Regions from separate parts of the Homo sapiens genome. Here region 1 is linked to region 2. The links come from fine-mapping of genetic effects on gene expression. A gene starts in region 2. The other region holds a variant in brackets. All regions are shown on one strand. Distances are between the middles of the regions.

Evidence for each region.
Region 1: its variant is fine-mapped to the expression of NAA16 in breast (GTEx, PIP 0.94).

The regions. Positions count from the first base shown.
Region 1 is chr13:41,552,607-41,567,358 of GRCh38, reverse strand. VWA8 (von Willebrand factor A domain containing 8) reads left to right here. Exons shown (of 45, transcript NM_015058.2): 45 at 1-524. LOC105370174 (a long non-coding RNA gene) reads right to left here. Exons shown (of 3, transcript XR_941901.2): 2 at 8,520-8,667; 3 at 3,268-4,012. Among named protein-coding and RNA genes, the nearest start is that of MIR5006, 8.4 kb to the left of the region's middle. RefSeq lists a silencer at 13,307-13,498. The variant G/A (reference allele first, on the strand shown) is at 4,354.
Region 2 is chr13:41,301,321-41,316,306 of GRCh38, reverse strand. NAA16 (N-alpha-acetyltransferase 16, NatA auxiliary subunit) reads right to left here and starts at 5,040. Exons shown (of 20, transcript NM_024561.5): 1 at 4,725-5,040. The coding sequence starts at 4,778. LOC105370173 (a long non-coding RNA gene) reads right to left here. Exons shown (of 3, transcript XR_001749846.2): 3 at 12,256-12,794. It also overlaps a transcript of MTRF1 not described here.

The DNA of each region.
Region 1 (14,752 bases), 250 kb before region 2:
TGAGAATATTCATATAAAAATTACCTAAAGCAAAGTAAAAAAAGTAAAATCAAGGTGGTATATTTGAAGTGAATGGTGATTGGAAATTTTTAGCTGTAACAAAAAGAAAGAAAACAACTTTTTTTAAAGCCTCATTCTCTTTTCTTTCAAAATGTACCTTATTCCCACACACTCTTGGGCTGACCTTTATTTTATCAATAAGCTCAATATTACTTTGTTTAAAATAAGATGCTTCAGCAAAAGTCATTCTCTCTTTAACCATATAATTTAAAAACTCCTCTTCACGATTGATAGCAAAATCAGAAACGTTAGGGCACCAGTGAGTTGAAAAAACTGGTCTTAAGTTGGAAAAACTATTATTAATAATATTATCCTATCCATCCATATCTATTGAAATTGTACAGGTCCATAATTTCATTTTAATTAATTATAGGAAAGAAGAAAAGATAATACCCATTTGTTCTATCACCCCTCTCCCTATCATTAACTATCAAATAAATAAATAAAAGCAATCTGATTTCCAACGTGGTACTACCTGGTGAGTTTGCATGGCTTTCTTGTTCCTCTAGTGAGACACCTGCTCCATGTATTGAACCATTCAATGATGCAAACAATTTCAATCCAACATGTATCTTTAAAAATGTAATTGCATTCCAACGGTCGCCACAACAGCAGCTAGCATTTACTGATGATTTACTGTGAACCAGGTATATGCTAAGTGATTGCATACATTATTTCATTCATCCTTACAACAATGCATGTAACAGGGGTATTTTTTACCTTATTTTGCAGATGATAAAGAAAGTGAGGCTCAGAGAATTTAAGTCACTTTCCCAAGATTCCTGTTACTAGACCTTTCACTAACTATTCATGGTACCATTAACATCCTCATTTTACAAGTAAAGAAACTGAGGCTTAGAGAAGTTCAAGAAAATAGGCCACACTCACAGCCAGGCAGGGGCAAAGCTGGGCCTCCAGCCTCCAGGCCCCTTAATGCCTTTGCGTCCCTCGCAGTCCCACGCCCCTTGCTGCATCTCACAAATGTACATGTCACACTCCTGCTGCCTTTTTCTCTTCCTTCCAGTGTGACTTCTCTTCTTGTACCCTGTCCACATTCACAGGGCTCTCTTCCTCTCCCTTTCCTCAGAAAGTCTATCTATCTGCCCATATTCGAGCACTCAGAGGTGTGGGGACCGAGGACATGGGACACTGTCGGGGGAACACTTCTAACTGCTGCTTCCTTGCTAGGCACAGCAGCAATCTGAGGAAGTGCCCTTCCAAGTGGCAGCTTAACCCCAAGGGATGCCCCTTAGCTAGCGGGTCACTGCCCCTGAAAGCCTTTGGAAGTGGAATCCAAGGGAGATTAAAGGAACAGCCAACCTTTAGCAAATCCTCCCCATGCGTAACTACCTGAGGAGGCAGAAGCCATTTTTTTTGACATGGAAAGAATGTTCTCAAGTAATTTAATTTACCTTTCTCGACCAGCCAGACATCCTCTGCAATTGCTATTTTTAAAAAAGCACAGTACTCCTGGCTTTTCTGATTTGTGAAGGGGAAGGATGATGGGGAAAGGGAATTGAGACTGAGAAGACGAAGAGCTTATTTTCACTTCTTGCAATACCTAAGAAGTATGTGCATTTATTATTAAATGTACTTAATTATAGACCACTCCAAGCTGTTCCCAGGCCCTTCTTAGGGCCAAGACATTATAATAAATGCATTGTGTGCCTCGGGGGGTTCCACTGAAAGGCATCTAACCCCTGTCTCCTTAGTAAGCACATGTAATGCTGAGAAGGTTCATTGTTACCCATGAGCAGCCAGGAGGAATGAATGCCGTGAATAGCTGCAGTATATGATGCATATTCCCCCTAGAATCCTCTGTGTGCCCGACAAAATGACCTCATCACAGATGGGGAGGCTCAGCACAGCCATAAGAAGTGGATCAGAGGGGGAGTACTTGAAGGGAACCCATCAGATGTTTGGAATGAATCACTTAATTCTTTATACTACACTCTTTCCTGTGAACTGTCAGAGGAGAAGAAATCCATCAATGCCAGCAAGATTTTCTCTAAACAAACTCCTGGGCTTTGAAAGCCGTTTGGAAGTGGTTTTCAGTAGACAGCATTGTCATTGTTCCTGAAAGACCAACCTTGGAGGCTTCCAGCCTCCCTCCACCTGGCTCCTTCTTGTGCCTGTCAGATCAGGCAAAATTAAGTTTCTAAGTGAATAAAGCTGGGAGAAACAGACAAGGGGAACAACAGGAATAGTGGCTTATTTGCTGCATTTCGATTTGTTTCCAATGACCACAATTGTAAGATACTCCACAAATTCTAAGCCAGCCTCTCCTGCCTGGACAACTTGTTTCTGGAATTGCATCTAAGGAATAATCAAATGTCGACTTATATTTAATACATCGTACATAGCTTTTTAATCTTATTAAGAAACAAAATGTCCACTTTTATCATTTTTTTCCAACCAGTAACATAAATGGCTTTGAAAAATACTTAAGTCCAATTTCTGGTCAGGATTATATCATAAGGTTCTTTTTCCTTTTTCTTTTTTTTTTTTTTTTTTTGAGATAGGGCCTTGCTCTGTCACTCAGGCTGGAATGCAGTGGCACAATCATAGCTCACTGAAGCCTCAACCTCGTGGGGTCAAGAGATCTTCCTGCCTTAACCTCCTGAGTAGGTGGAACTACTGGTTCATGCCACCATGCCCAGCTAATTTTTTTTTTTTTTTTTTTTGGTAGGGACGGGGTTTCACCATGTTGCTGAGGCTGGTCTCAAACTCCTAGCCTCAAGCAATCCTCCTACCTTGACCTCCCAAAGTGCTGGGATTACAAGTATGAGCCCCTGCACCCAGCCATGAAAACCTATTGCCTTTTCTTTACTCTTGTTCTAAGACTTACTATGGCAAAAGTACTACAGGTAATGGAAAGGAATTCCAATTCTCCAGCTTATCATGGGGAGTAATTGCAAACTTTAGGTAGAATTTGTCTGTGACCCTGCTCAGCTATTAAGTGCCTGTGTAAACTTGGGCTAATCACTTCTGGGTCTCAACTGAATTAAACCTACGATTTAAAGGGATTGGATGTGAAAATCCACTGCTCCATTATCTCAAACAGGAAATTGAGATAATTTACAAGAGCCACACACTTCAGTGCAACTTTTGTCTCCAAAACCCCACACATGCAAAAGATAACCTATCTCCTCAGTACACAGAGGATTTTGGCACCTATATCAACTGCCTTAAAATAATGTTACTGACTGAATATGCATACTAAAATTTATATAAACATCATTAAAATGGAACAAAGGAGGCTTTCCCTCGTCAGCTGAAAGGATTATTTCTGTTTGATAGTTATTTACAAGATTTCTGCCTATTGTCTCATGCTTTGCACTTGGCTGTCTTAAGATAAAATTACATGTCTGCTGATGGGCACATTGAAAATCAAAAAGGATCAGGAATTGGAAAACTACTGCGTGCCAAGAGCTGACCTTTGTTCTGCAGCTGAACAATGAGTAATTGTGTGTGTGTGTGTGTGTGTGTGTGTGTGTGTTTGTGTGTGTAACTGTTAAATCCTGTAAACAAAATTTCCTCCAGAGAGTAAAAAATGCTTGCCAAGCAAACATCTCAAGTTGAGGATGACATGACAACTCTTTTTTGAGACTTAAGCACTGCCTGGGGCTTTTGCCTTCAGAGACCGCATCTGTTCTTGCATGGTGGTGCACGTTGGCTTTGGAATACCAAGACTACATAATTTTAAAATCAAGTGGTGTTTGTGGTATTTGGCCACGCAGAGCAAAGTATAACATTCTTTTAAAGTGGTTTGCATCCTGGGGGTGGGAAGAACGTCATGTTCTGCTGTAAGAAATCTCACCAAGGGGACATGTAAACTCGGAGCGTCAGCTACTTCTCAAGATTCCCCTCTTCTGCAGGTGCCAGAGACTTGGAGTCTTCCCTCTTTTCCAAAGGCTTCAGTGGAAGTACTTTGGGGCTGCTAGCTCCTTCCCTGAAGGAACAACCAGAGTGTGTGAATAAATTCAGACTCCAAAGATGGTGAGTGTGACCACAGAGGAGTTTCAGAATATAAGAATGTATTAATATGAAATGCAGCTCTGAAGCATTAAGTCATGGTAGCTGGGGTTTGACCTGGAAATGGAAGAGAACAGTGTCTCTCTGAACATCCTAAAGCAAGTTTGCTCCTTACGCAGGCCAGAATACGGCAAGAAAATCATGAGCCTGTCAAGAGTACTCTGTGTAATTGGTCTCATGACATCATGGCTGTACATGAAGCCTTACTGATTGAAACTTGAAGAAAAATAAGTATATTTACTCAGAGGGGACATTAAA[G/A]TTGGATTTTTCAAGTGCAATGTGTTTATATTAATAAATACTGCTGCTAATTTAACGAGACTGACCGTTTGTTTACTCCAGCACTAATTAAGTCTTTCATCATCAGGACTCCAGAAATAGAGTGAGTCTCGACAAAGCTAGCTGATCCATTTCCTTTTACAAAAGATTTTATGGCCCATATGAAATTCAGGCCTAAAAATGGCCTAGAAAGGAACACTTGCAGCCCCAACAGAAATCAAATAGCAAAGCTGGGGAAGCAGCCTGATTGACTTGCCTCCTAGGGGTGGCTCCTACAGAGCCTGAGGCTGCTGGGGAATCCAAGGGCCTCTGCAACAAGCGGATGCTCAGATCAAGGGTGTTACACACAAAAGAAGAGCAGATGACAGGGGCTACTGGGGAAGGCCAGGGTTGAGTTAATGGATCCATGGGTTGAATAATAAAATTGTCTATTTGGCAGTTGGCAAAGAGAGAATATTTAACTGAAAAGTTTCCTTCAGGGCTCCAGTGTTGGAACAGCTATTTTCAAGGCTGATAGAATATGCATGTCCATCCATTGCAGGCTCAAGTACAAAGATTTGATATTAAATATGTAGTGCCAGAACTGAAGAATCTCTTTTTGCATGACCTTTCGTGGTGACTGGAAGAAACGGGTATACTCTGCAGAGGTGGAAGATTGTAGCAGCTCCACAAAACCGCATGAAAGCAGATATTCAGTCACTTGGCTGGAATGCAGCTCCACACAGCTGGCCTGGCGCCGTGCCCCGCAGCATCTGAAGTCTATCTGTACAGTGGTGTTTCCCTGCAAAAGGGGCTTCTCTTTTCAACTACAAGTTGCCCTGACGGGCTACCATCATGCACCCCTTGGTCCAAATTCTTTCATTCCCATGCTTTCCTCCTAACCCCCACTGGTAGGAAGGTCCTTAGACAGAGGGCCTGTGATGGGTTGAGGAGATAGAATTGGCTGGGGGCATTTGCAGCTTGGAGCATTACTCAAGCAGAGAACCCAGACCTGGGACACAACGTGAGGGCAGGAGATATGGGAACCTTGGGTGACATTCTTGCCTTGGGCATATATTCTGCTGTCAGGCCTCCTGAGAGCACTCACTGAAGGCGGTGTTGGGTTTGGATGGCAGTGCCTTGGTTCTCCTTAGTCTTGTTTTTGCAGAGACACCCAGTTTTCCATTTGTATTTTTGCCTCCATCTTATAGAAGTGCTCTGCCTTTCTGACCTCTGGGTTATGGAGGCAGGCGCAGCATGCATGTTAGGGAGGTAATTTCCTAGCTGTGATGAAAGGCCTCTGGCCCAGAGGAAGGGCAAGGCCTTTGAAATTGGACATCTACTCCACAGCCTCTGGGCCATTATTTGATGATGTGAACAAATCAGCTTTTTTTTTTTTTTATTTCTAATTTGGGTTGCCAAGAAAACTCTTGCCCTGTACTGTGGGCCTTTAGGAAAACAATTTATACCAAGAGGCCACTACAGTTCTTGGGAGCCACTTCTCTTTCCTTGCAGAAACAGGGCCTGGGTCATGCCCCACTGTTCGGCACGACAAGACATGAGGAAGTTCTTGTGGAAAGCGCACTGGAATTCCTGAGCTCCAGCTGGGTAAGGACTTAAATGAGATCAGTGTGTGCCTGTCAAACTCAAAATCGAAATATATCCCTCCTGTTGAGTGTAAGTATTGAGTACATATCAGTGGAGCCTCCTCCACTAAGAAGTTTTCTAAAGTGCCTGTGATTCAGCCTTTAAGAAGAAGCTGTTGTGTAACAGTTTTTAAAAATCCTTGAGTATTATTTCCTTAGCACTAAAAAGACCAAGTGCCTCTGAAAAAATGAACGTGGCCTTCTAAAAACAAAAAATAAAAACAGCTCTTTTTTCTCTTTAAGATGGTTCTCTTCGGGTACAGTGGCTCATGCCTGTAATCCCAACAATTTGGGAGGCCGAGGCGTGAGGAACACTTGAGCCCAGGAGTTCAAGGCCAGCCTGAGCAACACTGGGAGATCCCATCTCAACGAAAAATTTTTAAAAATTAGCTGGGCATGCTGGCCTGTTCCCTCTCCCCAAACCCAGGGAGAACCCTGACTCAGTTAGGCACTCAGCTCCCAAAAGAACTGGTCCCTTTAGTCAGTTCCTTCTCGGGGGAGTCTTAGAGGCTAAGCCTAGGCAGCCATGTTTTGGCATATGCAAGGAGAATAATTAAAAATATTACTATTATTACATAAAATAATAGCAATAGCTAACTCTTACCTAGCACTTCCCATGCGCCAGGCACTTCCTGAACACTTTACATGGATAAACTCATTATATCCTCACAGCTCCTTCAGACAGGGACTGTTCTTATTCCCATTGTATTTGAAAAGCAAAGAAAACCAGTCTACCCAAAAAGAAAAAAGAAAAAGTCAACTTGCTGACTGAAGGAGAGAGAAGTAAATACGGCACCCTGGAACTCTAAGAATGTGACTATGGGTCCTAACTTTCCAACGTCTGGTTGCGGTTCCTTTGGGGGCTTGGATGGACCCCCTTCCTAGATAGAGACCCATAAGATGCCTTGGTGTCCTCCCAGCCACCCCCTTTTCACTTAAGCTAGCTTGGGAACTATGGCAGAGTCATTTACTGCTCACACATCTCCCATATTTCTCTGGGCCCTTGCAGTTAGGTCAGGACGGTGAGACTGGTTCTGGCCACTGGGCTGTGAGCAGAAGTGATGTGTCAATAGTGGGCTAAAGCCTTTAAGAGCTAGTAGGCAACCCTCCAGCTCTCTTTCACAGAATCGGGGTGACGGAGAAAACTATGTGTTTTAGATGGTGTAGCTCTACCTAAGATAGCAAAGCTTCAATGAACCTGGGATCCTGGGTGTTATGGACTGAATATTTATGTTCCCCCAAAATTCCCGTGTTAAATCCTAAATGCTGCTGTGATGGTATCAGGAGGTGGGGACTTTGGTAGGTGATTAAATCATGAGGTGAAGGCCTCATTAATGGGATTGGTGCATTTAAAAGAAGAGACACAAGAGCTCTGTCCCACTCTCCACCATGTGAGGATATAATGGGAAGATTGCTGTCTGTAAAGCAGGAAGCCAGCTCCTACCAGACACTGGACCTGCTGGCACCTTGATCTTGGACTTCCCAGTCTCCAGAACTGTGAGAAATAAATGCTTGTGGTTTAATCCACCCAGTCACCCACAGTAATATGTTATAGCAGCCCAAGCTGACTAAGACACTGGGTGATGGTATGGATCAGAGACCCCCACCAATTTGCACAGCAGCCTAACAAATATAGGAGGTTAGTTAGGTTTGTTGTTTTTCTCATAACCTAATGCTCCCAGATTGAAATAAAGACCAAGAAATCCAGTAAAATTTGGATTGAAGGAAACAGTTCCTTGCTGCTGGACAGCTATTTCATTACTTGGGTCACCACCATGCAAGGCACTCAGAAAATGAGAGAAGACATTTAAGACCCTTCCCTCTAGGTGTTTTCAATCAACTGGGAAAACAGGATGCATCACCAAAAGAGTGTGGAGAAATAACTCAACAGCATTTGACACCAGCTTCTGTGGTCCTGAGGCAGTAAGAATGGCCCTAGGTGCTCACCACACTCTCTCATCATTCTTTCCATATCGGCCTTCCCTATTGTGGGAGGAACAAGAGCAGGGATCAAGTCTTGTTTATCTTTGGCCTGGCCCTGAAAAGTGGTTAATAAATTTTTGCTGAACAAATAGCTGTGGGATGGGGAGGCACCATGGGCCTGGGAGGCAGAACAAGTTCTGGCTCTGAAAAGCAGGCAAGACCCACATGAGCCAAGAAGAGTCAAGGAGCCCCAAAAGAAAGGGAGGGTAAGTGTAGTTCAAGCAAAAGCCTGGATTTGGAATGTCCCAGGGTAGCTGAGCTGGCAGGCCTCAGAGGACTCTTCTCCTCCTCCTCAGCTACCACCATCCAGCCAAGCAGCTCTAGGCAAGGCCAGACCCTGAAAAGCAGCCTTATCCTCACAGCCACTGTGGTGGCCTCTGGGCTGCCCAGCTGTTGACCCCAACCTTGACTGGCCAGGGATAAGGTGGGAGGTTGGCCGGGCAGCCCAGGCCTGCCTGGAGCCCAGGGTAATGATAGGTCAACAGAGCAGGCCTCATTATGTGGAGCAACTTCGTGATGTGGCTGTTTTGTTTTACTTACATTTTTTTTTTCTTCTTGAAAATGAGCTGAGAACCTTCTTTACCCAAGATTACAAGTTGGGTTGGTGATGAAAGGTCTGTCCTGTGCAGAAGGAGCCCTAAGGCAGGAATTTGCAAGTCCTTTTGTTGAAAATGGCTTGTTCTATGGCCTAAACAAAAACAAGAAAAAAGGGAAATCAACAGGGAGCATCAGAATCATCTCAGCCTTTGTGAGGCTGCCTGGGATTCTCCGGCAGATCATCATGGCTGCCAAACATTCCTACCTGCACACAACCCAATAAGACACCTAGATTAATAAATCCCTAGAAGACTTTAGAGAAAATCACTTGGCCCATGTTCCCCAACCCAGGCAAAACTGTGCTTCAGTCAGTCACTTTGCAAAGAGCCCTGAACAACATGGATTAGTCAAATGGAATGAATGCACAATGGACAGACAGAGGGACGGACGGATGGATGAATGCATGGTTGGATGGATGGATGGATGGATGGACAGATAAATGAGTGGGTGGGTGGTGGGTGTATGGATAGGTCAAAGATGAGAAAGTCTACCCTATTTAAAATATCTTAGGGAAAAGAAATTCCCAGGGCTCCTGTTAGTACCCATGATAATAGGGCAGCAGAGGAGGCATCTCAGCTTTAGCCCAAGCAGGAATTTTGCCATATCTGCTAGAGTGGTAGCTTGGCCACCCCTAATCCATCCACATGAGAGATGAGAAAACAACTGGAAACAATTCCAACTCAACGGAAGAGCAAATCAGACACACAAGCTTGACCCTGTAACAAAATCTTAGTAGTGGCAGGGACAAGGATGGCTGTGTGACATTGAACATGAATTTGTGTCTAGATCAGTCCCTGGTGACAAGCAGATACCCAGGAAGCTGTGCCCAGATAGTGGCACATAGTGACACCCAACAGAAACCATTTTTCTCTGGGTACCTGAGACAGTTCCAAGTGACCACATGCTGCCTAGCAAGCCCCAGAGGTATTGGCGCAGATGACCTTAAGTGCATGGACATTGGATTCAAATCATGACCCCATACTAACTAGTTTTCTGTCCTAAAAAATAAAACATTTTTTTATATTTTGTACTGAAAAATACACATAATAAAACTCACCCTTTTAAAGTGTACAATTCAGCGTTTTGGAGTAGATTCACGAAGTTGTGCAAACATCAGCAGTCCCTAATTCTACACCCCATACTTGCTAGTAGTTACTTTGCATCACTCCTCCTGTCTCCTGGCACCACTAGTTTACTTTCTGTCTCTATGCATTTGCCTGTTCTGAACATTTCACACAAATGGATTTATACATTGTGGGACTTTTTTTTGCTTCCTTCACTTACCATAATGTTTTCAAGGGTCATCCATGTTATATCATGAATCACTATTTCATTTTTTTTTACAACCAAATAATATTCAATTACATCAATATACTCTACGTTTTGTTTATCCATTCATCAGCCAATGGATCTTTTGGTGAATATGAATAATGCTGCTATGAACATTCGTGTTCAAGTTTTCGTGCAGACGTCTGTTTTCAGTTCTCTTGAGTATTTAACTAGGAGTGGAATTCCTGGGTTGTAAGATAACTCTACGTTTAATTTTTTGAGGAATTGCCTGATTGTTTTCCAAAGTAGCTATACCATTTTACATTCCCACCAGCAATAAAAGGGTTCCAATTTTTCCACATCCTTGCCAACACTTATTCTCTGTCTTTTTGACCATCGCTGTCCTAGTGGATGGGAAGTAGTAACTTGTGATTTGAATTTGCATTTTTCTAACGACTAATGATATTGAGCAACTTTTTTTTTTTTTAATGGAATCTTGCTCTGTCACCCAGGCTGGAGTGCAGTGGTATGATCTCGGCTCACTGCAACCTCCCCCTCCCAGGCTCAAGCAATTCTCCTGCCTTATCCTCCTGAGTAGCTGGGATTACAGGCGTGTGCCACCACACCCAGCTAATTTTTGTATTTTTTGTAGAGATGGGGTTTTGCCATGTTGCCCAGGCTGGTCTCAAACTCCTGGACTCAAGCAATCTGCCCACCTCAGCATCCCAAAGTGTAGGGATTACAGGGGTGAGCCACCATGCCCAGCCCAATATTGGGCACTTCTGTATGTGTTTATTGGTCATTTGTATATCTTCTTTGGAGAAATGTCTATTCAAATCCTTTGCCCATTTTTAATTGGTTATTGGTCTATTTATTGTTCAGTTGTAAGAATCCTTTATGTATTCCAAATACTAGACCATTATAAGATATATGATTTGCAAATACTTCCCCCATTTTGTGGGTTGTCTTTTCACTTTCTTGATAGTGTCCTTTGAAGCATAAAAGTTTTTAATTTTGATGAAGTTCAATTTATCTATTTGTTTTTGTTTGCTTGCATTTTTGGTGTCATAGCTAAGAAACCATGGCCTAATCCAAGGTCATGAAGGTTTACATGTATGTTTTTTCTTTTAATAATTTTACAGTTTAGCCATTTAGGTCTTTGATCCATTTTGAGTTAATTTTAGTTTATAGTGTGAAGTAGGGGTCCAACTTCATTCTTTTATATGTGAATATCCAATTTTCCCAGCACTACTTGTTGAAAAGACAATTATTTCCCAATTGAATTGTTTTAGTATCCTTGTCCAAACATAATTGACCCACAAATAAATGTATGGGCTTATTTCTGGACTCTCAATTCTATTCCAGTGATTTATGTGTCTATCCTTATGCCACTACTATACAGTCCTGGTTATTGTAGCTTTGTAGTAAGTTTTGAAATTGGAAAGTATAAGTCCTCAAACTTCGTTCTTCTTCTCCAAGGTTATTTTGGCTGTCATGGGTCCCTAGAACTTCCATATAAACTTTAGGATTTGTTTGTCATTTCTGCAAAAAAGCCAGCTGGGATTTTGGTAAAGATTCCGTTGATCTGTAGATCGATTTGGGGAGTCTTGCCATCTAACAATATTAAGTAACTCAATCCATGAACACAGGATGTCTTTCCATTTATTTAGCTCTTCTTTAATTTCTTTCACCAATGTTTTGGAGTTTTCAGTGTATAAGACTTACACTTCTTTTCAAAATTTATTCCTAAGTATTGTATTCTTTTTAATGCTATTGTATATGAAATTATTTTCTTAATTTCATTTTCAGGTTATTCCTTGCTCATGTAAAAAAATACAATTGACTTTTATGTATCGATCTTATGCCCGGAACTTGTTTATTATTTCTAATGGAGCAAGTTAGAACATCACAATGCTTACTGCTCTTACTAAGATTCAGCCATTTTTCTTAAGTAAATGCTACCCAGATTGCTGTAAGTGTTTACTAAATTTCCAGAGTTTCGGAAAAGTTGAATTCTGACCATTTTTGCCAGGATTCATATTGCCTTTATGGAGAAGAGTGTTTTTTGAGGTCCTTATTCCACCATTTTCACTGACATCACCCAGCTTAAGGAAGTTTTCTATGCCTCCATTTCCCCAACTGCACAATGAATTTCTTATCTTTCCATAATTTTTTGGAGATGATTAACCAGGTAATGTGGTAAAGTACCTGACATTACCTGGCACTAATAGGTACACAGGCAACTTGTTGTCACCAGACACAGGAAGGAGCTGGTGATGGATGTTCAGTAGCTGCCTGGCCGTGTTTGTGAGCACACAGCCGTGCAATCCTCGCAAGACTGAGTTTGTACCCAAACAGCCTCCTGGCTGGGCCCCAGCCTGGGTTATAGTCAGTTCCTCAGACTCAAAACCTACCTTTCCCTCCCTGTCTCCCACAGTGCACCACCTCAGTGTCCGCTCCCTACCCCGAACGTGTTACCACTCCTGGAGGGGCTGAATGCAATTATGCTCACAAGGCCAAGTGAGGTCCACAAAGCCCAAAGGCAACAAAAGCCATCTCAGGCCTCAGCCAGGTTGGGGGAGGCAGAAAAATCCATCCCTTTAAACCACACCAGCTCCACTCACCTCCAGAGGTCAGCCCTGGTTAGTAGGACCTTCATGAGTGGTTCTGAGAAACTAAACCTGGAGGCTATGTGGTCTGTGGTATCAAACTGAGAGAGCAATTGAGTCATGCAGTTAACCTGGACGCCCATGCAGTGCCTTCTCCTGGCTGCACAGGGCTCCCAAGCACATCAGCTCAGCCTCAGTAGCTCTGAGGGGGGTTCATGAGCTGGGCGCGCACAGCTCCATCCAGATGCTCCACTCACACCCACACTCCCACCGCTGGCCTGAGCTCCTGACCAACTTGACAGCTGTTTATCCCCTTTTCTGGAAAAGCCTCTCGCTCCACCCCTACATGCTCACCCTCAGTCTTTTAAGGTCTGGTTCACATGACCTCCCAAAAGACCCACCCTGGAATCTTCTTTGCAACTGCTTTTCCTCATACATGTACTCATGCATTCAGCAAATATTTGCTGAGCACTTGCTGTGTTTCAGACACTATCCTGGGTGCTGGAGGCACCACAGTGAACTTGCTCTTAGGGAACACACATTCTAGGGGAAAGAGCCTGCAAGTAAACAAGTAAATGTATAATATGTGGGTGGTGACAGATTCTGAGAATGAAAGGAAAAAGGTGGCTCATACCTGTAATCTCAGCACTTTGGGAGGCTGAGTTGAGAGGATCACTTGAGCCCAGGAGATTGAGACCAGCCCAGGTAAGACAGTGAGACCCCGACTCTACAAAAAAATACAAAAATTAGGCAAGTGTGGTGGTGCATGCCTGTAGTCCCAGCTACTTGGGAGGCTGAGGTGGAAGGATTGCTTGAGCCCAGGAGGTCAGGGCTGCAGTGAGCTGTGATCAGGCTACTGCACTCCAGCCTGGGCAACAGAGTGAGACCTTGCCTCCAAAAAAAATTAAAAAAAAAAAAAAAGCGTTAGAATTCGGTTAGGGGACACTATTTTAAGTAAGGTACACAGGGAGGCCTCTCTGATAAGATAATAACTGAAGACAAACCTGAAGGAAGGAAGGCAGTGAGCTGTGCAAATATCAAGAAGGGTGTTCTACTCAGAGGGAACAGCAAGTGCAAAGGCCTTGCAGTGGGACCGTGGGAATCTTAGAGAACAGCAAGGAGGCTGGGGTGGCCAGATTGGCATAAATGAGGAGGAGAGCAGCAGAAAATGAGCCCAGGAGACAGCAGGCACCAGACCTGGCCAGTCTTAGAGATTACAGTAAAAATTTGGGATGTCCCACGATGTAAGTTTAGAATCCAGTGAAGGTTCTGAACAGAAGGGTGACATACTCCGAATTGCATTTTGAAAGGACTGCTCTGGGTGCCACGATGAGAATAGACTGTGACGGGCCAGGGATGGACTCAGAGGGACCAGTTAGGAGGTGGTTGCGGTAATTCAGACCTGACAAGATGCTAGCAGAGGTGGTGAGCAGCCGTCAGAGTCCGGATATATTTGGAATGTGGAGCCAACAAGATTTGCTGATGGATTAGATGTGAAATGTGAGAGAAAGAGGAATCAAAGATGACCATAAGTCCACTGGCTTGCAATACTGAAAACATGAAGCTGCCATTTATGGAGATGGGGAAGCCAAGCACATGGAGTAGAATGGGTGAGCCTTGACCTTGACCTTCTGCCTCCAAGGTCATGCTCCTCCCTCACAGATGCAGTCCCAGTTATGGCATGACATGACTTTAGCGGTGTCTTCCCGAGCCATTGGCAGCCATCTGCAAGTTTTATCTTTTGATTTGAGGCACCTTGGACTCTCCAACTGAGATCCTCTTTCCTCCGGTCCCGTTGTCCGAATGTACTGGGAAGCAGCAGGGCTTGTCCAGGTCATGGTGGTGACAAGAGGCAGCTGGCTGGACACCCCTGTGAGCACACCCGAGCTGAGGCAAAGTCAGGCTCAATCCAGCAGGGCTGGTAGGAGCGGAGGAGCAGGCATCGGGGCAGGAGGCCTCACCTCGCCTGCACAGTAGAATCACAGGGGAGTTTCTGTCGGGTCCTACTCCAGGCCAATTGCCAGAATGTGGGGGTGGGAGCCAGGCATCCATGATTTTTAAAGTTTCCTAGTATTCGGCCAAGGTCGAGAGCAATTACCTTCGATCAGCAAGTGCATCTTCAGTGCTTCTTGATGTTTGCTGATTCCAACTGTGCTTAGCAAAGGTCTAGGCACTGTGGGGGGGAAGAAACACCCCTGTCCTTACAAATTAAGGTGAAACAGAGAGGGGCTGCAGGACATTCTCCTCCTACTCAGCACTGAAATCAAATCAGACTCTCCAAGAAAACATTGAATCCTC
Region 2 (14,986 bases):
ATTACAAAAATTAGCCAGACGTGGTGGCGCATGCCTGTAATCCCAGCTACTTGGGTGGCTGAGGCAGGAGAATCACCTGAACCCAGGAGCTGGAAGCTGCAGTGAGCCGAGATCATGCCACTGCACTCCAGCCTGGGCGACTGAATGAGACCCTGTCTCAAAACAAACAAACAGAAAAAAATGACAATTCACCAATCAATACTGCCACAGAATTTTTTATTTTGTTTCCCTTTCCTAGTACACAGAATTTTTTAATTCAAAATAATTCCAATGCTTTGGGAGGCCAAGGCGAGAGGACTGCTTGAGCCCAGAAGTTCAAGACCAGCCTGGGGAATAAAGCAAGATCTCATCTCTACAAAAAAATTAAAAATTCCTCAGGCGTGGTGGTGCACATCTGTGGTCCTAACTGCTTGGGAGGCTGAGGTGGGAGGATCACTTGAGCCCACGAGGCTGAGGCTGCAGTAAGGCATGACTGTGCCACTGCACTCAGCCTGGGCAGTAGAGCAAGACACCATCTCAAAAAAAAAATTTAAGCAAAAACATATGTGGCAACAGAAAAATACCAGAAACTGCACTAAAAGCCTTTGCTACCGCAAGAATGAAACCAAAGTGCATGGGTGTGTGCACGCATACACACACACACACAAATACTACCACTTATTGAGCAGCTATGATATGTCTGTAAAAAATTTGTAATCTCTTACTTAATACCAATTCTTTAATGTAGGTGTCATTACTTCCACTTCAGAGATGTGGAAACTGAAACTCCAGAGGTTCAAAAACTTGTTTATAAGCTGCTCAGCTTAGCTGCAAACTCTGATCTTACTCCAAAGACCATCATTAGTCCAATGCAAGGATAAGCAACATCTTTATTTCCGAATGCCACCAGCCAGGGTACACAATTAACATCTCTCCCTGGCAGCCACTGATGCGAAGAACACCCCATTGCTTTCCACTCTTCCCTGGCTTACATTGTTCAGTCACACTGGGTGTTAAATTACTCAACATGCCAAGCTTATCCCCACCTCAGGCCTCCTACACTTGTGTTCCTTCTGCCTGAATTGCTTTCCTAGATCTTCCCATGGATGGTTCCTCATTATCCAAGTCTCACATGTCCCCTACTTGCCCACTTTATCAAATACTCCCATCCTCCTTCCTTCCCCAACATATTCTCTACCATGTTACTCTATTTTCCACACAGTGCTATCATTTCCTGAAATCTTATTTATGCTATTATTTAGTGTCTGTCTTCCCCACCATCATATAATGGATCCTTAGAACAATGATCTCACCTATCTTTCTTATTTATTTTTTAGAGACAGTCTCACTCTGTTGCCCAAGCTGGTGTGCAGTGACACAATCACCATAACCTCAAACTGCTGAGCTCAAGTGATCTTCCCACCTTAGCCTCCTGAGTGGATAGGAAGGACTACAGGTGTGTGCCATCATGCCTGGCTAAATTTTTTTTTATTTTTTTATTTTTGGTAGAGATGAAGTCTCACTATGTTGGTCTTTTGCTCCTGGGCTCAAGTGATCCTAGCTCCCACCTCAGCCTCCCAAAGTGCTGGGATTACAGGCATGAGCCACTGCGCCGGCCTTAGCCTATTTTACATACTGCTGCATTGCCATGGCTAAACAAATAAGAAACTGCTCCATAAATACAGCCTACTAAGTTCAAAGCAAAATGCCACTAGCAATGGATGAGACCATCTTTAAGCCTTGCAGCAGGGGCTGGATGTGGAAGGAATTAGAAAAGTCTTCATGGAAAAAAAGTTTATATTGAGGCCTCTTGACAGCCTCTGGGGAAGGGAACTAGGTGATTCTGCGATAAGGATAGGAGAGAAACCTAAATTTTGAACCATGTGAATATACTGCCTATTCCAAAAATATTTTAAAATAAAAAATGACAATCTGAGTTTGACTACAAGTCTGTCTCACAAATGACAAGAAAAAAACAAGAGAAAGGAACTACTGAGAAAGACAAATAGAAATACTAGTTTTTCTGACTTACCAGGTTATCTGAAAATAATAATAATCATACTGCCAATAACAGTAATAATAGTTAACACCTATTGGAAGCATTTACTATACGTCCAGACACTGTTATTTTTTTCCTTCATCCCATGACAGCTTATTTACTCTTTATTTAAATCCCAGGAAAGCCTATGAGATGCATGATATCCCCATTTAGATAGAGAAACTGAGGCATAGTTATAGAGTTTATATAACTATTAAGTGCCAGAGCCACAACTCTTAACCAGGTAGTCTGTCCCCAGAGTCCAAGTACTCGGGTAAAGACAAGTCAACCTGTAATCTCAGCTACTCAGGAGGCTGAGGCACGAGAATCGCTTGAATCTGGGAGGCAGAGGTTGCAGTGAGATCTTGCCACTGCACTCCAGCCTGGGCGACAAAGCGATACACTCTCGCAAAAAAAAAAAAAAGACAAATCTACATTCACTCAGGAACCATTATATACTAAGCAGAAATGATAGATTCTAGTCTCAACTTTGCTACTAACCAGACAGAGAACCTTAGCCACTTGGTCATTTACCATCTTTAGGTTTGTCTCTTTCTAAAAGAGGGCATGGAATACCTCCAAAATTCAACAAACTGTAATGCTAATTAATATCCAGTCTGGGGAATAAGACATGCAGATACAAGCCACGTGGAACACGTAAAAAACCAGCTGGTCAGTTTGTGTGGATGTGTTTGAATTTTTTCAATAGAAAAAATTTTACTGTTGGTGGCAAAGCACTTTAATCCACTAAACTTTAAAGATAATTTTATTACAGAGACTTCTGTTTGCTATGGAATTTGTTGTAGCCAAATTTTACCCACATTTATTGCAATTGTGAAATGATAAAATCATTCGTTTATGCAGAATCCTCCTAAATTCACGCAACCTTGTCAGAAACATTACATACCTAGATTTAAAAATGTTTAGCTTGGCTGAGCACAGTAGCTCACATCTGTAATCCCAGCAATTTGGGAGGCTGAGGTGGGAAGATCGCTTCAAGCCAGGAATTCGACAGTAGCCTGGCCAACAAACCGAGACTTCCATCTCAAAATAATTGATTTTTTTTTAGTGGTTACCATTTCCCAATTTATTTGGGGATAAACCCTACCTTTTTTGTAATTTAAGAATAATAATGTAACTTTTTCCTTATGACACTGATCCATGATTTGAACTACAAAAAACTCGTATAAAGAGAAAAGAAGTGCTGTCATCTTTAAAGTATGATGCCAAATGTCCTGAAATCCAACTAGCGATTTATAAATGATATTATCATTAATGTTTCAGATTCCCAGGGCAAAAAAAAATTAAAAATAAAAATAAATAAATTACTTCTCCAATTCCATGCTGTGTAAAATAAAAGGGCATGAGAAGTAAAATAAAAAAATACAAAGCCCAATGAAGCAACCTGCCACGTGCTTTAATTATTCGTATTTTTAATGTTCTCACATTTGTATCTTATTATTGGTTCAAAACTAAGCACCACATAATATTTAAAATTTTTATCCCATCTACTATGTATCCTAATCTGAAGACTAAGTGTGAAGTTTCTATCGTCTTGAAACAGAACAGCTACTATGAATTATCTGCCGCTGTTCATACTTAAAATTACTCTAAAATTAGTATTTTATTTATAGTAAAGTTAAGCAACAACTAACAGCCATATAGCCAACCCAGCTTTCAATAAATTCACCTTTAAACCTAAATGCATGTTTAGCAAATAAAAGCTTTTTTTCAGGTGAAAAGATAAACTAGAAAAGACAGTTACCTACTAACAATATTAGTTTAAAACCTAGGGTAGCCAGAGGATACTGAGGAAAGCAAAGGAATGCTGCCTCTTCTCCTTGGAAGAACAGAACCTGGAAAGCTACCAGGGACGCTGGCACACAGCCCACAGAAAACTGCCCACCCGGCTCCGCAGCGGTCATCACTACGGGGCCATTATTCAGGCTTCTGCTCCGCGATAAAGTAAAAATGCTCCCCTCAAATGCAAAACCAGCCAGTCCACGCGGCTTTAATTACTCAAGCAAGGCCTGTGCGACTAAAAAGCAAACAGCTGTTTTGAAGTTGGTGACAACTCAGAAACGCACTTCAAGTCAAATATTCACTTCCAAAGAGGTAAATAAGGTACATTACAAACAGGCAAACTTTTTCCCAAAGGGAGGTGGTGCCAGGCCTGGCTTCCTAAAGTTGCCGGTTTTATTTCCTCGTAACCAGGAAAAATTCCACCATCGCATCGATCCCGCTTTAATAGGTATGCGGGTGTGCTGTGCAATCTAACTAAACGCAAAGCAGAGAATGCAGAACGCAAAACACCTAGCCGAGGAGAGACTGGCAAAATAAACCACCGGGGGAGGATCCCTGAGGGGCTGCTGCGAGCCCGGCGCGGCAGAGAGCACGGCAGCCACTACCGGCCGAGGCGGCTGTGCCCGGGCACTGCGGAGAGCGGCGTGAAGTTTCTGGAAAGAGCGCGGCGGGGGTGAGGCGAGCCGCAGAAGACCGCGGAAAGGAAGCGCACGGAGGAGCGGCTCGGCAGCCCCCGTGGGCCGGCCGGAGCGGGAAAGTGGGGTCCCGCGACCTCCGAGGTAAACAAAGAGCGGTGGGCAGCGGAGGCCAAGCCTGGCCCGCGCCGGCCGCCGCCAGACCGCTTGCCCTTAAGGCCCGAGGACCCGGGGACCGGGGGGCGGCAGCGCGGCCTACGGCCACTCACCAAGATGCGTTTGAAGAGGTTGCTCTCCTTGGGCGGCAGCAGCACGTTCGGCATCGTGGCCGGCAGGGAGGCTAGGTGGCCGGCAGGGAGGCTAGGTGCCCGGGCGCTCCGCTTCGCGGGGGTGGGCACCGGGACGAACCGCTGCTGAGAGTCGGGCTGCGGGCGATGGATTAGTTCATTGGTCTACAGTTGCAATTGGGCAGCCTGGCTGTTCGGCACGGGTGGCAATGGAGAAGGAAGGCGGTCTGAGCAGGACACGCTTCCCCTGGGCTCCGCTTTTTGGCCAGCGGCGGCGGCGGCGGTTCCCGCGCACTGCAAGATGGCAGCCAGGGTCCGCCTCCCGAGCCGGATCCTGTGCGCATGCGCGGAGCGCCCTTTGGCGAGGGGCTGCGGGTGACTACGGGGGCGTAGCGGGGACCAACCGCGTGGATTTGCCTTGTGCTGCGGCTCTCCTCGCCGCAATCTCGGCACCCCCTGGGGCTCAGGCGAGCTGTCACCAAAACCTTGGAGTCCCATGGGGTGGTGAGTCACCACCCTCATTCACCATTGCTCCTATGCATCAGAACGCCTCATAAGACTCCTACTTATTGTCTGCTTCTCCTTGCAATAAAGTAATAAATAAAAACGAGAATTTTCTTTTAAGTAGAAAAGAGAAGACACTGACTTGTATTGCACTCTTGATAAGCTTGTGGCGCAAGATAATGTTAGTTATGACTCTGAAGAGTCAGAGTTTTTTGCATTTCTCCCCATTTAGGAATTTAAGTGTCCGATGCAAAGTAGACTTTTGATGAAAGATGAACTTGTTTTCTTTCCTTTTCCTCCTTGATTCAGACTCTAAGTAGAAGCCTTCTCTTTCCAGGGCAAACCAAACAAACATTTACAATCTTTGTTTTTGTTTGGTTGGTTGGTTTTGAGATGGAGTATCGCTCTTGTCGCCCAGGCTGCAGTGCAGTGGCGCTATCTGGGCTCACTGCAACCTCCGCCTCCTGAGTTCAAAGGATTCTCCTGCCTCAGCCTCCCGAGTGGCTGGGATTACAGGCATGCGCCACCACACCCGGCTAATTTTGTATTTTTAGTAGAGACAGGCTTTCACCATGTTGGCCAGGATGGTCTTGATCTCTTGACCTCGTGATCCGCCCCCGCGTCAACCTCCGAAAGTGCTGGGATTACAGGCGTGAGCCACCACACCTGGCCGGAATTACGGTTTTATAAGGCCACTGGTCTTCTGAGTCTACCTACCCTTTCTCTTCAGATGGTTCCCCTTCCTGAAAGCCATATAATAATGGGAGAAACAGGCTTCAAATTCAGGATCTTCCAACTCTGGGATACTCTCTACAACAAATAAAAGGCAGCATATTGATGGTAATGTGTGAGTCTAGAAAGATACAACAGTGGCAAGAATAAACCATACATTCAGTGTAGGGTTAGTAGTAAGGTGTGTGTAAACATTAGGTACATAAGTTTATTTATACATGTGCTGAATCTTAATGGGTGCATATTTCTGAGACTATAAAGTAATTGATGAGTAACTGCATTTAGTCGGCTGTAATCAGAACTGGGCTGCCCTTTTTTATTTTCCTTTTTTTGAGACGATGTTTTGTTCTTGTTGCCGAGGCTGGAATGCAATGGCGCTATCTCAGCTCCCTGTAACCTCCGCCTCCCAGGTTCAAGCGATTCTCCTGCCTCAGCCTCCCAAGTAGCAGGGATGACAGGCATGCACCACCACACCTGGCTAATTTAGTATTTTTAGTAGAGACGGGGTTTCTCCATGTTGGTCAGGCTGGTCTCAAACTCCCGACCTCAGGTGATCTGCCCACCTCGGCCTTCCAAAGTGCTGGGATTACAGGTGTGAGCCACAGTGCCTGCCTATTTGATTTTCCTTCTTTCTAGCCTAAGTTGGTTGGACATGAAAGAATCATAGGAGTCTTTTTTTTTCTTTCAATCTCCTACGTTTCACACATGATTTTAAAGCATCATAGGAGTCCTTTAAAATAGGGAAAGTACTGTCATTAAAATTGGGGGTCCACAGCAATCCCATTGCTGGGTATATACCCAAAAGAATATAAATTGTTCTACCGTAAAGACACATGCACAGCCAGGTGCAGTGACTCACGCCTGTAATCCCAGCACTTTGGGCGGCTGAGGCAGGCGGATCACCCTGAGCTCAGGAGTTGGAGACCAGCCGGGGCAACATGGCAAACACACACACACACACACACACACACACACACACACACACACTAGCTGGGCATAGTGGCGAGTGCCTGTAGTCCCAGCTACTTGGGATGCTGAGGTGCGAGGATCAATTGAGCCTGGGAGACAGGTTGCAGTGAGCCAAGATCATGCCACTGCACTCCAGCCTGGGCAACAAACTGCCTCAAAAAAAAAAAGGACACATGCACGTGTATGTTCATCGCAGCACTATTCACAATAAAAAGACATGGAAGTAACCTAGATGCCCATCGGTGGACTGGATAAAGAAAATGTGGTACACCATGGAATACTACACAGCCACAAAAAAGAATGAGACCATGTCCTTTGCAGCAACACAGGTAGAGCTGGAGGCCATTATCCAAAATGAATTAATGCAGGAACAGAAAATCAAATACCACATGTTTTCACTTACAGGTGGAATTATAAACACTGAGTACCCATGGACACAAATAAGGGAACAGTAGACACTGAGGCCTACTTGAGGGTGGAGAGTAGGAGGAGGGTGAAGATTAAAAAACTACCTATAGGGTATTATGCTGATTACCTGGGTGACAAGACTGTCTGTACACCAAACCCCCACAACATGCAATTTACCTGTGTAATAAACCTGAACATTTACCCCTTGAGTCTAAAATAAAAAATGGAAAGAAAAAAATAAAAGTGGGGGTTCAAGGGCCTATGTGTACTCTGCAGAGCTCCCAAGCTGCCCAAGCTGTTAGGAAGTAGGCAAGTATAGATGCTTTAGGAGCTTGCCTTAGTCGCACCTGTACTAGTGGCAGTCCCCCACCCGGAGAACTGAGCAAGCACACAGAAGTGCCTCCTCTCAGCACCCTCATACTCAACCACTGCCATAATTGCTAGCCACAGTTTGCTTACCACGGCATTACTAATTCCTGAAAACCTTTGGCTCCCAATTTATCTACATTGTCATTTATCTACATCATCAGAAGTGAAGGGTTACTCACGAAAAGAGCCAAACCTTCAGTGCGTCAGTCAAGCCCTCACTTGACCCTCATAGGACATGGACTTTTCTAGACCTATTTCAAAATGACAAATTAGATTTTTAAAAGAAATATACAAGAGAAGGGAAGAAAAGCATAGTACCAACTGTAAATATTTTGAAGACAAGGAACGATTATCTTTTATGAAAGTTTCCTGTGGGCCTCTTCCAGCCTTATTTACTACAAATCATTAACTATCTTCACTCTCTGTGGTAGCAGCTAAATCATCACCCTCATTCACCATTGCTCTCCCCAACCCCTAAATCAGCAGCCCAGGAAGGTTCTTCACGTGCACTCTGCAGCCTCCGACCCACTGCCAACTTCCACTTCCCAGGACACACAGTTCCGTGCCAGCATCTCCCAGGGAAGCGCAGTCACGCAAAGAAAATCTGCAATCCCAAATACTAGAAAGCAGCACTAGTTTGCTACTAGTTATAAACTATAGTTATATATAGTTATAAATACTCATATTTAATATCTTCTTCATCTGTCTTTCACACACCATACACACATACCTTTTGTATTAGTCTGTTCTCACATTGCTATAAAAAATTACCTGAGACTGGGTAATTTATAAAGAAAAGAAGTTTAATTGGCTCACAGTTCCACAGGCTATACAGGAAGCATGGCTGGGGAGGCCTCAGGAAACTTACAATCATGGTGGAAGGCAAACGGGAAGCAGGCACATCCTACATGGCTGGAGCAGGAGGAATAGAGTGAAAGAGGAGGTGCTACACACTTTTTTTTTTTTTGAGATGGAGCCTCATCTGCCACCCAGGCTGGAGTGCACTGGCATGATCTCAGTCACTGCAACCTCCTGGGTTCAAGCAATCCTCCTGCCTCAGCCTCCTGAGTAGCTGGGACCACAGGCATGCACCGCCATGCCCAGCTAATTTTTGTATTTTTAGTAGAGATGGGGTTTCACCATGTTGGCCAGGCTGGTTTTGAACTCTTGACCTTGTGATCCACCCGCCTCAGCCTCCCAAAGTGCTGGGATTACAGGCATGAGCCACAATGCCCAGCGGTGCTACACACTTTTAAACAACTAGATCGTGAGAACTCACTCACTATCATGAGAACAGCAAGGGGAAAATCTGTCCCCATGATCCAGTCACCTCCTACCAGGCCCCTCCTCCAACACTGGGGGTTACGATTCAAGATGAGATTGGGGTGGGGGGGGCACAAATCCAAACCATATCACCTTGGTTGTCTACACTAGTGTGGGGGTGAGGGGAGAGGGAGGGAATAGAAAAGAACACCAATCACGGTGCTGGTAGTTGTCATCCTGAACCTTATGTGTATAAAAGATGTAATGTATGCACAATCAGAAAGCCTAGATTAACCAGTAACTATAATCTTATTACTGACTTCCTGTTTAGTCTGGAACAGATCTTATTTCTACCTTTCAACAGAAAATGGGGTTATAATAACATGATAATGTGTTTCACAGCAGGGTTATGTGAATTTAATGCTTAGTCATTTCAAAGCCTGTGATAAAAAACAAATACTGTGTAAATCTGAACTCACTGTTTCTCAGGAAAAATGCTGAAGTCCTTTTGGGGCCATCATGGACATCCACCCAGATGCTCCTTCCTGGCACTTCAGACGGTGCATACCTCCTTTAGAATCATGCATAAAGTAAAATAACAGTAACCACATCTGTAAAGACCTTTGCAATTCCCAAAGCCCTTTTTACATATGTAATATGGGCCACTGATTCTTCTCGTTCAGCCTAGTAAAGACAAGGAGAGAAGAATCTGGAAAAGGATTTTCTCCACCCCATATACGTGCATGTCTTCCAGAGCCAGCTGGCAACCTAAAATCAAATAGTTTGCTGCTATTCCCACAGCCAATTTAACTATGTAATTAAAAGCTGATGGGAAAATAACTTATCAGGTTATACAACGTGTTCCACCCCAGACTCCCTGATGTTTCTGCTCTCTTCCATGTTCTTGGCTCTTCTTTCTTTCCTTTTTTTTTTTTTGAGACGGAGTCTCACTCCGTGTCCCAGGCTGGAGTGCAGTGGCGCGATCTCGGCTCATTGCAAGCTCCGCCTCCCGGGTTCACGCCGTTCTCCTGTCTCAGCCTCCGGAGTAGCTGGGACTACAGGCGCCCGCCACCACGCCCGGCTAATTTTTTTTGTATTTTTAGTAGAGACGGGGTTTCACCGTGTTAGCCAGGATGGTCTCGATCTCCTGACCTCGTAATCTGCCCACCTCGGCCTCCCAAAGTGCTGGGATTACAGGCGTGAGCCACCGCGCCCAGCCGGCTCTTTTTTCCGAGAAAGAAAGGTACTCTTATTCCTCCCTTTGAGTTCTTCATCTCATCCCTTTTTGCTTTTCCTCAAATTTTATTCATCAGTTACTCTCCTCCCAGTTTGCATGTTCTCTCTCTTTACATAGTTTATATCCTAGTGGGAGGAGACAGATTATAAACACATAAACAAATAGATAAGGTAATTCCAAACTGTATGAAGTCCTATGAGGGACTTAAAGCAAGTCCTATGAGGGACACAAAGCAAGGTCATTTGAGAGCAATGGGGGCTGAGGGAAGGACTACTTTAAACCAAGTACACAGGAATGAGAACCCTTTGGGGAGGTGATAATGACAATTGAACAGAAACCTGAGGATGAGAAGCAAGTTTGGCTGGGAGATCCTGGTGGGGGACCACATGTCGTGGGATGGCATATTCTAAACAAAGGGAACCACAGGCAAATGCCCTAATGCAGGAAGAAGATTGGTATGACGAAGGAATAGAAGGGAAAGGTGAGAACTTGTCTCTCCTCTCTGGTTAAAGGACGTGGCTGGAGTGTAGCGCAGGAGAAGTAAAGTGGTATGCAGTACAGTTGAAAATATAGACCAGGCTGTGCAGAGTTCACGGTCTCAGGCAGTGTGGGTTTTTTTGTTTGTCTGTTTGTTTGTTTAATCTTAAATTCAATGGGAATCCACTGAAACATTTTCAGAAGGCAAGTTACATGATCTGATGATTTAATTTTTTAAAAGTCATTCTGGCCAGGCACAATGGCTAACACCCATAATCCCAACTCTTTGGGAGGCCAAGGCAGGAGGATCACTTGAGCTTGGGAGTTCAAAACCAACCTGGACAACATAGTGAGACCCCGTCTCTACAAAAAATTTTAAAAATTAGCCAGACATAGTGGCATATGCCTGTAGTCCCAGCTACCTAAGAGGCTGAGGTGGGATAATAGCTTGAGCCTGGGAGGTCGACGCTGCAGTGAGCCATTATCACACAACTGCATTAAATCACTCTGACTACATGGGGAAAACAGATGAGAAATAGCTGGATATTTTTTAGGAAAGTGGCAACTCTATTGAATACTTAAGATTTGGCTTCTGTGCCCAACAGTTTTCTGAAAGTGTTTTCTGAAATATCACCAGTTCATTTGTTCTGCGTTGTGAAACCTGAAAAAGCCAGTCCTTCAAGATAAATCCTTAGTGTCTAACTGGGCCTGAATTGAAAATAGAGCCAATGGGCCATTTGCTGATTAGAGATCACACATGTACTCTGAGTTCCTTACAGGCTTTTCCTTAACTTTGCAACTTTCATAGCTGCCTGTTCCTGTTTAGGCACCTGAACCAACCAATAAGCTGTAACCTATGTCAACCAATCAAAACTCAGCAAACATCAGGCAATCAGATCTAAGCAAGTTTGCATCCTTCATCTACATAAATGGAGGAGCATGGGAACCTGGGTAGGTACTTTCTATATAAAAACAATCCCTCCCTTTGTTCTCTGGCATGTACCTTCCTTTTGTACCAAAGGCTGTGTCTCCCCTATTTGCAAACTGTTCATTGGAATAGTTTCTTTCTTCTAAATTCCTTTTCAGAGAATTTTTGTTCACAGTATTTATTGTTGAGTACCTACGATGTTATAGGCAGTCTTCTAACAGTCAAAAATATCTGCTCTCAGCGGAAGCCCAGGCACACGTCTGTAGTTCCAGCTACTTGTGAGGCTGAGACAAGAGCATCACTTGAGCCTAGGGATTTGAGGCTGCAGTGCACTGTGATTGTGCCTGTGAATAGCCACTGCCCTCCAATCTGGGCAATAAGTAAGATCCTGCCTCTGAAAAAACATCTGCCCTCATGGAGCTTGTATTTTGAAGAATTGGCCAATTCCAAAAAGTTTCTCAGTCCACAAGGTCCTTAATCTCTCATTGGCATTTCACACAGTAGACCACCCTCTCCTTCATGAATTTCTCTTTCTTTTCTTATGTTACCAGAAAGAGCTCCTGATCCAGACCCCAAGAGAGGGTTCTTGGATCTCACCGAAGAAAGAATTTGGGGCAAGTCCACAGTGCAAAGCAAAAGCAAATTTATTAAGGAAGTAAAGTGGTGAAGGAATAGCTACTCTATAGACAGAGTAGGGCGTTCCTGAAAGTAAGAGGAGGAACGCGCCTACCCCTAGGTACAATGCTTATTTATATATAGGATAACAAAAAAATGGGGAGATTTGCTCTACTACAAAGGTTTGTGATTTAAACAATTAGTTTTCTTAATTACTATATTTTGCAAGGATCGATATTTATCTTTAAAGCAAAATTAGGAGTGCTTTTGTTTTTAAGACATCAGGATATCAGGACATTCCTGAGTCTGGGTCTGTTAGTAAACGTTATTAATCTGTTCCGTTAACCTAGAGGCTAGGAATACTTACCCTCCTGGGAATGCAGCCCAGCAAGTCCCAGCCTCAGTTTTCTTAGCCCTCACTCAAGATGGAGTAGCTCTGGTTCAAATGGCTCTGACACTTGCATCGCCAAGACCCTGCAGAATTCTGGGTTTTCTCCTGTACCTCTTCTTGGTCATCCTTTGGGTCCTCAATCAAGTCTTCATTCTTCTCCTAAATGTAGATTATCTAGATAATTCTGTTTTCTTTTTAAACAACAACAATAAAACATGTTCATTGAACACCTGCTATGTGCAAGACCAGCACGTACAGAATACACTAGCAATACAAAATTAATAAATTCTCTTGCTCCCATAGCATCATTATTAACACCAAGTAGATTATTTCAAATCTCTCTCCAGTTTCAAGTCCCCTTTGGATCTCCTGGCCTTCATTCTCATTGTTTAATATCTCCATCTGGATGTCTTATAAGCATTTCCTACTTTAACAGTTGAAATAAAATGTATTATCTTCCATCAAAGTAGTCCAAAAAAATAGAGAAAACTACTTATCTGTTTTTGTTATTGACACCACTCTTGCAGTTAGCATCAAATATATATACATATAAAATAAAAATAAATCAAAAATAAATAAATAAATAAATAAGAAAGGCTCTTTCTGGAATTTCTTATCTGGAATGTATGTATTCCAGCCTCTTGAGTAGCTAGAATGTATGTATTCCAGCCTCTTGAGTAGCTGGAATTACAGGTTCCACCTACTCAAGGTGCTCTCTTGAATAGCTGGAATTACAGTTTCCGACTACTCAGGTGCCACCACACCCAGCTTGCCTCAAAATTTTATAATCAACTTTGACTGCTCTTTCTTATTCTCAAGTTGCCAAGTGCTTTAGATTCTAGATCTAGGCCAGGCGCAGTGGCTCACGCCTGTAATCCCAAAACTTTGGAGGCCAAAGCAGGAGGAACACTTGAGCCCAGGAGTTTGAGACCAGCATGGGCAACATAAGGAGGCCCCATCTCTACAAAAAGTAGTTTAGCCAGGCGTGGTGGTGCACACCTGTGGTCTCAGCTACTTGGGAGGCTGAAGTGGGAGGATCACTTGAGCCCAGGAGGTCAAGGTTGCAGTGAGCCATGATTGTGTCACTGCACTCCAGCCTGGGTGACAAAGCAAGACCCCATCTCAAAAAAAAAAATTTAAAAAAAAATCCAGATCTAGTGTGTTTCTCCCTTTTCTTCCCTGTATTGGGGCACAGAAATGATTCCCCAAATATAGCCACGCTGAGTGCTTTTGAAAATCCTCAAAAATAAGCCTGAGAACAAAGGTCTCTCTCTCTCTGCCACTTCTCCCACCTTCCTGTCTCTCTGATCCTGTTTCCAGAAGCACCCTAAGAAAGATTCTTGGCCAGGCACGGTGGCTCGCACCTGTAATCCCAGCACTTTGGAAGGCCGAGGCGGGTGGCTCACCTGAGATCAGGAGTTCGAGACCAGCCTGGCTAATATGGTGAAACCCTGTCTCTACTAAAAATACCAAAATTAGCCAGACATGGTGGTGGTGGGTACCTGTAATCCCAGCTACTCGGGAGTCTGAGGCAGGAGAATCGCTTGAACCCAGGAGAGGGAGATTGCAATGAGCCAAGATCGTGCCACTGCACTCCAGCCTAGGCAACAGAGGGAGACTCCATCTCAAAAATAAATAAATAAATAAATAAGAAAGACTCCTTCTGGAATTTCTTATCTGAAGAAGAAAGTTTAAATACAATTGTCTTAAGACTCCCTCCCTAGGAATCTCATCAAATAGCCAGGAAAGATCAACCACCAGAGAAGAGAAGAGACTGGGAGTCATCCCCACACCCAGACAGACTTTTCATCTGTTCATCTGAGAGCAGCACTGAGAGATTTTATCTACATAAAATCTTTATCTACATAATAAGACAGACTTTGTTTCTGTGCAGCTCTGGTCCTTGCCTTTCTTTTTTTTTTTTGAGACGGAGTCTCACTCTGTTGCCCAGGCTGGAGTGCAGTGGTGAGATCTGGGCTCACTGCAACCTCCACCTCCTGGGTTCAAGTGATTCTCTTGCCTCAGCCTCCCAAGTAGCTGGGATTATAGATGCCCACCACCACATCCGGCTAATTCTTGCATTTTTAGTAGAGTCAGGGTTTTACCCTGTTGGCCAGGTGGATCTCAAACTCCTGACTTCAGGTGATCCGTCCACCTCAGCCTCCCGAAGTGCTGACATTACAGGTATGAGCCACCGCACCCAACCTGTCCTTTGCCTTTCTATATCATCTGCCTCCCACCTCCCAAGTCAATACATCTCTCCCCTCTGAAAACAGGTACATAAGCTTCTGTATAATAGTGCGTTGTTGGGTCACCATTCTGCGATTCCCCCAGGCTAGCCACGTGAAAAT